Homo sapiens: one gene and its partners. The protein of the gene in region 3 interacts with the protein of the main gene of each other region in a pairwise test. Each region holds a gene or a part of one and is shown on either strand. Other genes may lie near its edges.

Region 1 (5,365 bases), on a different chromosome or scaffold from region 3:
AACAGAAGCAGACTCAGTGCAGGTGGCCCCAGTCTGCCCTCCACCTAAGGACCCTGGGTGCCCAATGCTCGCCTACCCGTGGAGTTCTTCCTCTTCTTGCGGTAAGAGCCCAGGATGGCCCGGGGTGAGGTGGCCAGAGACTGCAGGGTGGGGGAGGGCAGCACCTCCTCAGGCCGAAACTCAGGCAACTCAGCAAAGCGCTCTTCGAAGTCCACTTCTGACAGGACCCTGCTGGAGGGCCGGCAGGGTCACCTCCCCCGCCTCAGCCTGCAGCTGCTCCCACTCCCGCCACCCTAACACGCTCCACCAAGGCCCCAGCCCATGCTCACTTGTCCACAGAGTCAAAGGTCTTCTTCAGGGGCGGGGGCCGCACCTTCACCTTCTTGCCAGTACCAGCCGCCTCCTTGCGCTCCGGGGTGTCCCCGGCTGCCCGCCCACTGCTGCTCTCGCTGCTGCCACCAGGGGCTACAGCTGGAGCTGGGGCCGGGCTGGGAGGAGTGGGAGGCTCCCCACGATTCTCCAGGCCCTGCCCAGGGACGCGCCAGTCTGAAGATGAGCTGGGGAATTTGCTGGCCTGGGGTGGAGATGGGCAGGGAGATGGCGAACACTGAGCTCAGACTCTGGGGCAAAGGCCAGAAACAAAGAGTTGGATCTGAGCCCGCCCAGCAGACCCCTTGAGAAGGCTGTCACACGGCCTCAGGAAGGCCAAGACAGGGGCCTCAGATGGGAGAGGAGACAACACAGGCAGGCAGAAGGGACAGAGGGGACCCTTTAACCTGAGAGACACACAGGCATGGAAAGAAGAGTAGGACAGAAAAGCAAAGACGTCAATGGAGAGGCACAGCCAAGTGGCAGTGGGAGCCCCACGGCCTGCAGGCGCTCACCATGGTCTCAGGGCCCTTGGCGCTGGTCCGCTCCTCAGCAGGTGGGGGCAGTGGGGGGCTGCTCCGGGCCGTGGGAGTCCAGGTCTCTGGCAGGGGTGGAGGGGCTGGTGGTGTGGGCTGCCCCTCAAGCTCAGACTCTGGGGCAGTTGGCTCTCGGACTGGGCCAGGCTCCAGAGGCTGCCGGGGTGCAGGGCCAGGCCGCCCAGAGGCACCTGCCTCAAAGGACCCCACGGGAATGCTGGCGATGGCTGCCTTCACTTTCTGGGGGGCCTTCGGGCTGGGCCGCTGGGCCTTGGGGGCCACTAAGCTGTAGGTCATGGAACCTGCTAGTGGGGAGAAAATTGTTTGCTGAGCCAGGCCTGACTGGAGCCCATCCCCTGGGTCCCCCAACTCACTCTGCTCTGGGTTGATCTGACACCTACCTGTGGCGCTGGGGAAAGGGCTAGTCGGGGCTGGGGTGGCAGTGGCAGGGGCTGGCGGGCCCTTGGGCAGAATGGTGGCTGCAGGTGGGGTTGTGCTGGTGGCCACAGTGTAGACCAGGCTTGGGGGGGCCTGGGATGGCTGGGCCAGGGGTGCTGAGGAGGTGGGTGCAGGGCTGCCAGAGTAAAATGCTGTTATGACAGGACCTCCGGGGGCTGCACAGGCAGGCGGCAGCTGGGGACTGGGCACAGGTGACACGCCCACCTGACCGGGAGCCAGCAGTGGGGCTTGGCCTGCTGAAAGACAGAGAAGAAGAAGCAGGAGACCAAGTTAGGGCCCGGACTGCCTCAGCCCCACCCTGGGTCCCCAGCACTGCCTGCCAGGCCGCCCCTCACCTGAGAGCAGGGGCTGCACGAAGGCGGGGCCGCTGGGCCCCAGCGAGGTGAAGCCTAGAGCTACAGAGCTCGTGGGCCCGTACGAGGTGACTGTTCCAGCCTGGCTGGACGCAGGGCTGGTACCCAGGGGCAGCGCGTGCCCGCCCGCTGACTGCACATAGGTGATTCTGCCGCAGGAGAGGAAATGGGGAGGAGTGAGGTAAGCCGGCCCCGCCCCACCCCTTCCCTGGCCTCTGAGTATGGGCTCAGCTGCAATTACCTGGTGGAGGAGGGCAACAGGACCTTCTGAGGCTGAGAGGTGGGTCCAGGGAGTGTGGCTGGGCTCAGGGGCGGCACCAGGCCGCTGGGTGTGCTCACAGGCACCGGGGTCAGCTGGATGATCTGTGGAGAAGGGCACCCATAGGCCAGGGTGAGCTGTGGCCCCAGACTGGGGCAGGGGAAGACCAAGACCTCAAGTGGGACTCTAAGCAAAAGCAAGGAACACAGAACTTGGGGTGAGAACAGGATGGGCAAGATGACAGTGAGAGGTGGGGACACAGAGAAGGAGGAGGGTACAGACACTGAGGACTTGAGAGAGTCAGGATGCACAGAGACATCACGGAAGATGGCAAGACAGAGAACCAGATACATGGAGAAGGAGAAAAGACTGAAAAAAAAGACAAAGAAATGATGGGGTACAGGGGCCAACATCCAGCAGGTAGAGAGAAAGGCAGGCCCTCACCTTGCTGGGGGGCTGGGCACCATTCTGCACAGGTACTGAGAAGGGCGGGCTCACCAGTGGCAGTGGCTGGCCGGCCCCTCCACCCCGCACTGACATGCTAGGGGCGGCCAGAGGCACTAGGACCTTCCCAGGCAGCAGCTGGGCTGAGCCACCCGGGGGCGGGGCCTGCACGGGAGAAACTGACTGGGCTGGAAGTTAAGAGGCAAGAAAGGAAAAGGTTACAAGGGAGCCAAACAGGACTATGGCCCCTCCCCTAGTGCTGCCCGGCCCAGGTCTCACCTTTGGGGGGTGGGGCGGAGGGTACAGACTGCAGGATGGGGATGCCAGGAGTGGGTGCAGTGGCAGCCAGGACTTTGCCGTTGGTGGAAGTGCCCGGTGGGAGGGTGAAACGGATGCTGGTGGTGGGTGCAGGGCCGCTGGGAGCCGCTGCCTTGGTCCCAGGGGCTGGTGCTGGGGCAGGTGCCACCTGAAGCTGCTGGGGCAGCGTGGGCAGGATGTACTGTACCTGGGTGATTCCCCCAGCCTTGCCCAGGGCACCTGGTTGCAGGATGCCCAGGGGTACTGGCCCATTGGGGCCACTCCCAGCACCTGCTCCTGAGCCCGCAGTGGTCCCACCACCAGGGGCCCCCTGGGCAATGAACTGGACAGCAGGGGGCGCAGGGGCCCCATACCCCGGGGTGCCCACCAGTAGGTTAGTGACAGTGGCAGGCGCCTTCCCCACAGTGCCCAGCAGGGGTCCAGCCACCAAGTGTGGGGCTGGTGAGGTGGCTGCTGCCGACTTCTTGTCCGAATACACTAAGCTGACACCCAGCGGGGAGCCCCCAGGCACCCGAGACCCAGTGCCCATTTCAGTCCTGGCACCTGCTGTGTCATTTGGAGACGCCTCAGCCCGGCCAGAGGTGGGGAAGGGCTTAGAGGCGATGGGCACAGGAGTGCTGCTGACAGGCCGCACCACATTGGTGACCATGGTGGCGGCAGGACGGGACAGGGGAGCTGCTGGGGCCCCATAGGCCAGTGATGGGGCGGGGGCGGAGGGCACTCTGGCTCCGCCGCCCTCTTGCTCCTCCTTGTTTGGGGGCAGCACCAGTGTCTGCAGGATGTTTCCTCCTCCGCTGGGAGGGGCCGCGATGACTGAGGGGCCTGGTGGCTCCAGGCCACCCACACTTTCGGGTCTCTTGCGCCGGAAGGTGGCAGGATCCATTGGGAGGAACCGGGTTGCCTTGGAAGGTGTCGCTGGACCCCCAGCCCCAGGGGGTGGGGGCCGTAGGGGGCCCGCTGTGCTGCCCTGACCAGACTCCTGGGCCTTGAAGGTTCCTGAGCCCAGTGAGAAGGAGGTGGCTGCCGAGGCTGAGGAGGAAGCAGGCGAGGACGCAGAGGAGGATGGGGCGGAACCATAGCCTTTGCCAAAGGCTACAGGAGGATCCGGGGGCCCTGGGGGCTCAGGGTCCAGTGGGGGGCGGCAGTGGGTAAAGGAGGAACGGATCACAGGTGAAAACACCTTCCGACCAAAGCCCTGCATGAAAGGAAGGGAGACACCCCAGGTCAGGACACTCCGACACCTCGATAGCAGCCCCCTAGCCATGCCCATCCAGCCTGTCAGCCAGGCCAGCCTAGGGCTGCACCCCTGCCAGCTGAAGGCCTCAATTCATCCTGACTATGACCCAACTCCCCACGGGGCAAGCAGCTTGCCCTCTCTGGACCTTAATCTCCCCCTCTCTCAAGCCCGGGAGAAACAGACATTCCCATGGCTTAGGAGGGAGTGTGATGGGACAGCACCGTGACCCAAGCCCTCACCTTGTTGCCCTCTGGGTCCTCCCCAGAGCTGTCCCCACTCTCGCTGTCGGTCACCCGCTCCTTGCACTTGAGATCAATGTCAGTGGTGCCGAAGCCATCGTCAGCTGAGGGAGTGGAGGGAACAGTATGGGGAGGGGGCTAGATGCAGGGGGACCCAGGAGAAACAGTCTGGAGCCTGGATCTCAGCTCTGCTCCAAACCGGCAGGGAGTGCTGTCCAGGAAGGCTACTCCTCAGCCCAGGGCTGTGCCCACATGCCCAGTGCCCACTGCCCAGTGCAGGAGCCTATGAGCCTGCAGGACAGAGCCCCTAACACTGCACCTGAAGATCTGGTCATGCCCCCTGTCCTCCAGATTTCCTGCAGGGCTGGGGGCTTCCTGAGGGCAGGGCTGGATTTACTCGGCAGGGCCTGAACTGGCCACATGCAACCATAAACCAAGTGGAAAAGAAAACAAAGGGGCCTAGGGGCCTGGATCCAAGTTCTGCCCACCCTCTGAGCCTTGGCCTGCTGGGTCCTGGGCAAGATTCTGGGCCCTGCAATGCTCACCAATGACATCATCATCCCCTTCCTCCTCACAGATGACCATGCGCTCCTCATCACTCGTCATGTCCTCACTGGCCGCACGCTGAGAACGAGAAGCTCGGGTGGGCAGCAGCGGGGGCCGCCCAGTGGCCGCCAAGGCACCTCCCTCACCAGGGGCTGCAAAGGGTCCTGGAGCTCCATACTGGGTAGAAGGCTTTGGGCCAGAGTACGATGCAGGGCCAGACACCATCTGCAGGATAGGTGGCAGAGAGGGTTCAGCGGGGCTGCTGCCCTGGACAGGTTCCCTGCCCACCCCCACTAGGGGGCCTGCACCCTAGACCTGCGTCAGTTCCTGTAGCGCCTGACTGTCTACTTCTCCGCCGTCCAGGCTGTGTACCCCGCTGTGGGAGAAAGCTCGGGGCCGGGCTGAGCCAGGTCCCCCAACTGTGTGTAGCCGTTCTGCCCCACAGGAGCTGCTCCCCGGAGCCTTGGTGTCTGAGCTCAGGAGTGTCTGGGCTGCAACGGACAGGAGCTCAGAGGACACTGTAAAGTAGAGAGTGGCGCTATGACAGTCAGTAAGCCTGTCACCAGCACCTAGACTGGCCCAACAACCCATAGATATTTCTAGGT
Region 2 (4,116 bases), on a different chromosome or scaffold from region 3:
CACACCTACCGGGCCATGGAGCTGTGCAGCCACGAGAGACTCTTCCAGCCCTACTACTTCCACGAGCCCCCAGAGCCCCAGCCCCCAGTGACTCCAGACGCCCTCTGAGCGAGGGCGGCCCCTCTGTTCTGGTGGCCCCAGCTGTGACTGAGGGCCTGGTCACCACAATTAGAGCTTGATGCCTCCCGGCTTTGCAGGGAGACCAGGCTTCCCAAACCAAGTGCCTTGAGCTGCCTGCTCTGCAGCCCACAGAGGACAGTGCTGACCCCAGGAAGTGGGAGAAGTGGCCCCTCGTGACCTACAGGGAACTGGGAAGATGCTGGCCCCAAAAGCCTTACGGTCATGATGTCTGCAAAGGAGGGCCTCAGAGACAGCGCGAGTAGCACCCCCAGCCATCTACTGGATAAACTTGCTTCAGACTTTTTAAATTCCTGCTTAATGTCAGTCTACAGGCCTTTCAGGAAGGGAGAGGAGGGAATCGTACATTTTGCTTGCGTGCTGGGACAGCTAGGCTGAGATGCACCAAGTACAGCCTTCACTGGAGACCGGAATTGAGAGGTGGGGGATGCTGAGGAGGGGGAGGACGGAGTTCAGAGGGTGTCGTCCTGCAGTGTGAGATTTCTCATTGATCACAGATGTGCCCAGAGTAGCCCAGGTCACTGTTAACTAGTGTTTCTGCAGAGGCAGCAGGAGCCATGAGCATGAGGTGTGGCATTAGGGACTGGTCAGCTATGCATGCTGGCAGGTGGGGTTGTGTCTGCAGGTCTCAGAAATGAAGAGGCTGCTCTGTTCTGGAGGCAGCCGTGGCCCAGTGCCAGTGGCCAGAACAGTGGCCTTTGGTGGGTGTGTCCCGGGCCATCTCGGGGTGGTGCTCAGGAGCGCCTGGGGCAAGAGGTAAAGAGTTCCCTGGCCTTCAAGGAGAGCAGCGAAGACCCAGACAGGGGCCAGCCTTCAGGACCAGAGGGAGGCCGCCGAATGGGACCCTCCTGGTCACCAGGAGAAAGCCCTGGGCCAGCGAGTAGGCAGTCAAACTCCTTCGTCCCCAAGGCCGGTGGAACAAGAGGCTCGTGGTGAGTCAGGGCCAGGGTGGGTGGCCAAGGCCAGGGTCACCGTGTGCTTCATGGGCCAGCTTTTTTGTTTTTCTTGGCAAATTTTAATAACTATATTTTGATTATACTGTAGAATGCTATGTCAGCATAAGTAAGCTAAACTTGAAGCTTTCTTGTGAAGAATAAATGCAAGATAGAATACATCTTCTATTTTTTGTGGTACCAAAAATCACCATCCCCTCAAGAGTGTTCATGTATAGAACATTCTCTAATGCTGAAGAGTAAAACATTATAGCAACACTATGTAAATGTATTGAACAGTATCAAAGAAATAGTCTCTAAATTGTTTGTACCATATTTTTTTTTCTAAACTTAACATAATTTTTAGCTTTAGTTTCAGTCAAAACTTTGTCTTTTCTCTCCCGAGAGCCTTAGAGGTTAAAATGCAATCAGCCTACCGTGTAAGGAGATGTTGTCCATGTACTTTCTCCAGCCAGTTGGGGGATCATTGCAGCTCAGGCCTGGTGAACTCAGAGATTCCATTCAGTATTAAGAATGGGATTGTTGAATTTTACTCACAGAGAAATCACTGTTTCTTCATGTTGTAAGATGTTTTCTGTTTGTGTATTTGTATCATGGTTACTCATCAAAAGCTCTCATTCTGCCTTTGTAGAATTCAGTTCCCTTCCTTTCATCATAGCTAAAGTGACTTTTTTCCCTACTATTAACGTGATCCTACATCCTTAAATCTCATCGATTACCTCACTTAGGCCTTGGAACCTTGGCCCTTGGTCGGTGTCCTTGGCGTCTTCTAAGCAAGGCTGTGCGTTGTTCAGAAACGTGGCCAGACCGCATTTCCTGCTGCTCCCATGCCGCATGCCAGGTGGCCTGAGACAGAGCTCCCCATACGGCTGCAAGGTGCTTTACCTGTGGGCTTTGGCAGTAACCCAAGAGAGGATCAGAAGGTGGAGAAGGTGCCACGAGTGATTTAACAGGCCTGCCACAGGGAGTGCCCCCAGCCCAGCTCGTTCTCAGCACAGGTTTTCTCTTTGGGAGTACCCAGGTGATTTCTAGTGACCCAATTTTGTGTCATCTCCCTGTTTTAGCCCCACTTGCCTAGAGACAACTGTTTCCGATGCCTTTTCTGCTTATCATACTAGTTTCTAACCACGCAGATTTCTCAAAATCATTTATTCAATGTATTTTATTTGAGCACTTAGTGTATTGAGCTAGGCAGGATATAGGGTGCCGGAGATACAGCGATGAACAAGACAGGCAAAACTTCTGCTTTCCTAAAACTTGTGATGAGAGAGAACAATAAAAAAGTGTTGCTGCCACAAAGAAACCAAAGTGTGTGGGGAAGGGCGCGTGTTTGCGGTTTACATCTCTTCTGTCCCAGAATCACAGGGATCTGGTCCGGTCACCTCTGGTCTTTCCTCTTAGTCGCCTTTAGGAGCCCTGGTTCCCGTCCATCCTCTGGGGGGTTTGTTTGAAGAGATCTCGTGTGGGTACTTGTCATGAAAACACCTTGGGCATCATCTGGTGTATCCAGTTCTAGTCTCGAGAATTCTGGTTTCCCACTGTGCTCAGCAAGTGGAAAGTTCTTTTCAGGCCAGAACAGCTCTGCACCATCACATATCGTGTTGCGGCTTAGCTGTTTGGTCTGTAGTTCAGGTTATGGGACTTCTCCAATCCTGGAAGGCTGTTGAGCTTTTTAGAAGTACTGTACGCTATCTTCAAGATGGAGCTTGGTCACATCTGTTAGGAATCCAAAGGACACTATGACTTATTTAAATCTTGTCTTACTAAACCTCTCTTGGGCACGTGTGCCAGAATTTCTCTTGTTGCTTCTTGAGTCTTTTTAATTTCAGTGTTTTTTCGTTTGTTTTTTGTTTTTTTGAGACAGAGTCTCGCTCTGTCACCCAGGCTGGAGTGCAGTGGCACGACCTCAGCTCACTGCAACCTCCGCCTCCTTGGTTCAAGCAATTCTCCTGCCTCAGCCTCCCGAGTAGCTGGGATTACAGGTGTGTGCCACCACGCTCGGCTAATTTTTTATATTTTTTTTAGTAGAGACGGGGTTTCCCCATGTTAGGCAGGATGGTCTCGATCTCCTAACCTCGTGATCCGCCTGCCTCAGCCTCCCAAAGTGCTGGGATTACAGGCTTGAGCCACCGCACCCGGCCTAATCTCAGTTTTTGAAGTGCTCCACAAGTCATTAGGCACCAAAACATTTTCACCTGGGGAACACTGGCATTTCCCTGATTAGCTGTGAAGCAATCTAGTGGCTAAGTGTGAAATCCTGGGTGCGCAGGTGTTCTCACTCCCGCCGTGTTCTCAGTGCAGTGGTGGTCAGAGGCCCTTCCAAGGAGACATCACTCTGATCAGTTACAGATAGATGTTCTGGAAGATCTGCAGGTGAGTAGATCCAGCAGAGTTTCTTCCCACCAACTCTAGAAGAAAGGGCCTTATCAGAGTTGACCCTGAGCCTTTGGTAAGGTTTTGTGTGCATGCGATTCAGTTATCTTTGGCAATTCTTTTCTTGCTGCAGTGAGAGATTAATTGGTTGCTGATCAAACCGTTCATGCAGATGGGGGGACCTTTGGATTGTACGGCTTTCTCCTCTTGGCTGCTTTCTTTTCAGGAAGTTGGACTTTGGCCAGGTTTGGCTTTCCCAGAGCCGTTCCTTTCTCTGTCCTTTCCTTGGGTCCTCATGGTGTGCCCATTGGATCCTTGGCCTTGTGATCCTCTGGGAACTGGGGGCCAGTTCCACTTTTGCAGCCTTCTGTGCTGGAAGAGAAGCCCAGCGCCCTGGAAGGAGCCTCTTTAAGTCCCCCATGTCGCTTTCTCTCTCTGCTCTTTTAGTGTCTGAGATTGCCTTTCTTTGAATTTCCCAGTGTTTCTTTTCCTTGTCCCTTCCCTCACCAACCTGGAGTTATTTTGGTTGACTATGTCCTGGCTTTGGCTTCTCCTGGCAGGAAGTCATCAGGCATCCTCTCCAGGTGAGCCGAAATTCCACCCTCCCAGGTTGGACATCATCTTTTAAACCCAATGGTCTACTCCCCTCCTT
Region 3 (5,365 bases):
TGCTATCAACACTTGTGTAAATGTTATCTTTAAAGATAGAACATGTTGAAAATTATAGGAGGTACAGATTTTACAGAAAATTAATTCTGCAGTGAATCCTTTGGTGAAACGAACAGTTTGCAGAGACATATCCTTAGAGTTCTTTGTCTCTCTGAATCATTCTGGGTTTTCTAGGTTGGGAGACAATTATACTTATTGGGAGACAATTATACTTAATTGATTAATGCATAAAAATTTAAGGCCGTATTTTAATGGCTTTGAAAGGAAGCTAAGTTTGTTTCCAGTTGTTTCTGTGAACTGTAGTCTGAATCTGTCAGTCTATAGTTCTCTACTGTTCCATCAACAGGAAGCATCTGGTCATTCTTCGTGTAATTGTTAGAAAATACCAGGTGTACTTTTAATGTTTGCTGTTCAAACGAAAATAGATTGGATCTTGGTTAAGTTCACTTGGTTTGGCCAGGCACAGTGGCTCACGCCTGCAGTCCCAGCACTTGGGGAGGTGGAGGCGGGCCGATCACCTGAGGTCAAGAGTTTGAGACCAGCCTGGCTAACGCGGTGAAACCCCATTTCTACTAAAAATACAAAAAATTAGCTGGGCGTGGTGGTGCGCGCTTGTAATCCCAGCTACTCGGGAGGCTGAGGCAGGAGAATCGCTTGAGCCAGAGAGGCAAAGGTTGCAATAAGCCAAGATAGCGCCATTGCATTCCAGCTTGGGCAACAGGAGCGAAACTCTGTCTCAAAAAAAAAAAAAAAAGTATGCTTGGTTTTAGTGTGTTTTTTCCCATAACATTGTGTCATTGTAATGGACCACATCTCCTGTACCATGAATTTTTTTTTACTTTTTTCTTTTGCCCCTCAGTACCAGAAATATTAACAGGTAACAGGTAAAGTGCACGTCATGAGGAATTCAGAAATTCAGAAATTACATGAAGTTTTGCATCATGAATTTATTTTTGAGGGTGCACGAGGCAGTTACCCAGTCTCTGTTTGCAAGTAGCCTGAGTTCAGATGAACTCACTGATGGCCTCCATCTCTTCTGACTTTGCAAACGTTGAAAAACAAACCCACACAAAATCTTGAAGTTGAGAGCAACTTAGTTTCCTTAGTGTCATCCCTCTGCTCCCCTCTCCTCCCCAACAACTAGTATGGTTTCCAGCTAGTAATCACAATGTTTCTATAGCTCTGATGTGCCTACATTGGGATAGCTACAATTAGTATTATAGTTTTCTGAAGATGTTTGTTCCATCATGCTTTCTAGAAGGTAAATCTAGCACTAGATGAGATCAGTATTAGGGCCTGTGTTTTTTCTCAGTGTTGACATCACAGTGCTCTATACAAAGAAGATGCTTTGGTGCAATCAGCTGTCAGTTCAGTTGGTGGGCTAGTGCACCTTTCTGTCTCCCTCCCTCCCTCCCTCCCTCCCTCCCTCTTTCCTCTCTCCTTCTCCCTCTGTCCCTCTCCCTCTCTCTCCTTCCCTCCCTGTTTTCCCCTTTGCACCTCTTCTTTCTTTGACAGGGTCTTGCTTTCTCTGTTACCCAGGCTTAGTGCAGTGGTGCGATTATACTTCACTGCAAGCTCCACCTTTCAGGCTCGAGCGATCCTGCCTCTGCCTCAGCCTCCTGAGTAGTTGGGACTACAGGTACCTGCCAACATGTCTGGCTAATTTTTTAATTTTTTGTAGAGACGAGATCTCACTGTGTTGCCCAGGCTGGTCTCAAACTTCTGGACTCAAGTGATCCTCCCACCTTGGCCTCCCAAGTGTTGGGATTATAGGCGTCAGCCAACACACCCATCTGTGAATAATTCTGAAGTTGGTAGAACAGCTTATTGACAGAGCAAGGTGTTAGCCCCACTTTACTGTGTACTAGTTATATTATATTTGGGGTATTGTGTTGGCTTTTTGGGTAGCATACTATCATAAGTGAGACCTTGTATTCATTCTCAGACTTTATCAGAATCATCTGGAGAGCTAATAAAAAGCCACACAGAGGCCCAAACTTAAGTAGGGTAGGAACGGACCTTAATTTTTCTCATTTCCAAGGTGGTAGACACCTAAGTGTCAAAATCACTTATCTGTAGAGCATAAACGAGGACCTTGATCATGAGAGAAATGGAAATGAGAAAAAGTTGAAAAAATGGGATGTTTGACCTAAAGAAGAGGAGCTTCTTTTAAGAAGTAACAGCCACTTTTAAGGATTTGGAGTTCTGTCATGCAGAAGGATCAGATTTGACTTGACCAGAAGGAACTAGGGTCAGTGGGTGGAAGTTTAAAAGAAGCAGATTTCAATTCTCTTTCAAGATAAATTTCCTCAAAATTGTGAAAATAGAATGAGTTGTTTTGGGTGGTAGGCTGTTCCTGTTCACTGACAAATTGGGGATTCTAGAGTAGAGGAATCGTACTGAAGGAGAATTTGAGCTAGGTGTCTTCAAGTTACCTATAAACTTTGAGGTTTTATTAAATATGCCGAGGTTTACAGGTGGAAGAACAAAAAGCTAATTGAGTGAAACAAACTGGTTAACTTGATAATAGTTTTTGCCTTCCTGGATAAAGAGAAATGAGTATTAAGTGAGAAGGCTATTTAATGAAGGGCTTTAAACCACACTGTAATTTGGTAGATTCAGCAGCTTTAAAAATTGGCATACCTTCTGACATGGAAATTCCCTTTAAAGAATTTTTTTTTTGATGTAGTAAAGATGTGTGTGAATATTTAATTGTGAGCATACTAGATGCAGTATTGTTGATTATAAAAGCTGTGTATTAATGCCTTTAAGCCCCACGGTAATCATATGAAGTGGGTAGTACTATTTCTGCTTTTCAGAAGAAAAAACAGGCATAGAGAAATGAGGTTGCTTGCTCAAGGTACCTGAGTTAGTTAAGTGTTAGGGCCAGGACTTGAATCCAACCAGTGTGACTCTAGAGCCAGTACTATTGATCATTATATGGTAAAATTGTAAACAACCTAAATGTTTCACAGTGATTGTTAGGGTCCATCCCTACAGTGGGGTACTGCCTTCTCAGCCATGAAAATGATGATAGAATAATATAAAGACATGAAAGGATGTCTTGGTATATGTAAGTGAGAAAAAATAAATTTAAAAACATGATTCCATTTTGGTAAAAAAACCCAAAAATATATTATGTCTGGAAGGATATGTGCCAAATTGTTAAATGGTTATTTCTGAGTGTAGTTTTACAGGTGATTGTTTTCTTTTTGCTTATCCAAATTTTCTAACTTCTACAATGAATATAAATTATCTATCATGTTGTAATTAAGATATTAAGATGTAACTTTTCAATAAAAAATTAAATGTGTTAGCATAAGCTGAGAAATTTGGGTTTTATACTCTGCATTTTAAGCAAGTTTGTAGAAATTGTACATGAGAATTTGTAAATGCATGTAGTGTTTTGTAATTTTTTGTTTGATTCCTTATTCTAGAAGTAATATCAATTGAGTAGAGAAACATATCACTCCTACCACCCTACCATAATCAATTATTTTGTTGTGTGTTGTTACTCTTATGTGTAATATTTTAAATATTCATCCCAGTGTCATCCCAGTTAGTCATACTCTAGCTGTGTGATTTTAGGCAGTTTACTTAATCTCTCCGTGGCTCAGTTTCCTTCTTTGTAAAATGTGGATTATTATAATACTTAGCTCATGATGATTGGAAAGATTAAATGTTATTTCATATAAAGTGAACAGAACAGTACCTGAAACATAACAGTTAATAGCTCAATAAATGTTAGCAATTATAGGATCACAGTCCACCATTCAAACTCTTAGGGTCTAATAGGTTATGGAATTAGGAATTTTTTTTTTATATGGGCAAGGTAGTAATGTGTAGCCTTCCAATAGAGTCCAGTGCAATATCCCCCTTCAAAAGTGTTACTGTTTCTGCAACAAAATGTATGAATGTTCGCACTAAATAGGATAAAGACTGTAAATAGCTTCATATCAGTTTGGGTAAGGTTTACCACAAGATGAGTTATTTTGGGTTTCAGAAGTTTTTTGGATTTTTGGAATTGAAGATAAGGAACCTATAAAATATTAATTTTGAGTCCTATTTTATAATATTAAAACATCTTTTCATGGTATTTTATAGTTTTATAGTGCATGGTAAATTAAAGTCAATTAAAATGAAATAATGGAAAATGTCCACCTCCATCTCCTTTGATTTAAAAAATACTCAGCATACTGATACTATGATTTAAAAAAAATTTTTTTTTTGAGATGGAGTCTCACTCTGTCGCCAAGCTGGAATGCAGTGGCACGATCTTAGCTCAGTGCAATCTGCGCCTCCTGGGTTCAAGCGATTCTTCTGCCTCAGCCTCCCGAGTAGCTGGGACTACAGGTGCGCGCCACGACGCCCAGCTAATTTTTGCATTTTTAGTAGAAACGTGGTTTCACCATGTTGGTCAGGATGGTCTTGATCTCTTGACCTTGTGATCTGCCTGCCTCGGCCTCCCAAAGTGCAGCAATTACAGGTGTGAGCCACTGTGCCCAGCCAAAAAGTTTCAAAGTTTAAAAAAAAAAAAATGGCCGGGCTCAGTGTCTCATGCCTGTAATCCCAGCACTTTGGGAGGCCGAGGCGGGCGGATCACTTGAGGTCAAGAATTCGAGACCAGCCTGGCCAACATGGTGAAACGCCGTCCCTACTAAAAATACAAAAATTAGCCAGACGTGGTGTGTGCTTGTGTCTCGGCTACTCGGGAGGCCGAGGTGGGAGTATTCCTTTAGTCTGGGAGGCGGAGGTTGTAGTGAGCGGAGATTGTGCCACTGTACTGCAGCCTGGGTGACAGAGCAAGATTCTGTCTCCAAAAAAAATTTAAAAAACTACTCCTGTTGGTCCTGACTGTGATTCTATTTTAAAGAATATCTTAAACCCACTAATGCTGTGATTATATTACATAATGTAGAATCTTTTTCTGAAAGAGGCTTGAGCATTCCTATAACCCAATTAGCTTGTTTATGTCTCATTACACTTGAGGGATAAGATACTTTTACTATGGTGGTTTACTATAGTAGTGATTCTTTTTTTTTTTTTCCAGATGGAGTTTCACTCTGTCACCCAGGCTGGAGTGCAGTGGTGTGATCTAGGCTCACTGTAACCTCTGCCTCCCGGGTTCAAGTGATTCTCCCAAGTAGCTGCAGTTACAGGTGCCCGCCACCATGCCCAGCTAATTTTTGTATTTTTAGTAGAGACGGGGTTTAGCCATGTTGGCTAGGCTGGTCTCCAACTTCTGACTTCAAGTGATCTGCCCACCTTGGCCTCCCAAAGTGCTGAGATTACAGGTATAAGCCACTGCGCCCAGCCTATAGTAGTGATTCTTTAAAGGAGGTGGGTAGATGACACTGTGATACCT

The links. Proteins that work in one complex are often made in the same cells at the same time.
Region 1: the proteins of GABPB1 (region 3) and CIC interact in a two-hybrid assay, tested with the Homo sapiens proteins (one large-scale study listed by BioGRID and IntAct).
Region 2: the proteins of GABPB1 (region 3) and ERN1 interact in binary tests that used the Homo sapiens proteins (3 or more experiments, as listed by UniProt).

What each region holds. Positions count from the first base shown.
Region 1 is NC_000019.10:42,288,801-42,294,165, reverse strand, and holds part of CIC (protein capicua homolog), read right to left. Parts: intron 5,279-5,365; coding exon 5,076-5,278; intron 4,986-5,075; coding exon 4,760-4,985; intron 4,319-4,759; coding exon 4,215-4,318; intron 3,934-4,214; coding exon 2,700-3,933; intron 2,609-2,699; coding exon 2,421-2,608; intron 2,081-2,420; coding exon 1,959-2,080; intron 1,867-1,958; coding exon 1,700-1,866; intron 1,601-1,699; coding exon 1,307-1,600; intron 1,211-1,306; coding exon 885-1,210; intron 575-884; coding exon 330-574; intron 232-329; coding exon 77-231; intron 1-76. UniProt on the Homo sapiens protein: Transcriptional repressor which plays a role in development of the central nervous system (CNS). In concert with ATXN1 and ATXN1L, involved in brain development.
Region 2 is NC_000017.11:64,039,980-64,044,095, reverse strand, and holds part of ERN1 (serine/threonine-protein kinase/endoribonuclease IRE1 precursor), read left to right. Parts: coding exon 1-108; 3' UTR 109-4,116. UniProt on the Homo sapiens protein: Serine/threonine-protein kinase and endoribonuclease that acts as a key sensor for the endoplasmic reticulum unfolded protein response (UPR).
Region 3 is NC_000015.10:50,347,725-50,353,089, reverse strand, and holds part of GABPB1 (GA-binding protein subunit beta-1 isoform beta 2), read left to right. Parts: exon of another isoform or gene 1-4,154; intron 4,155-5,365.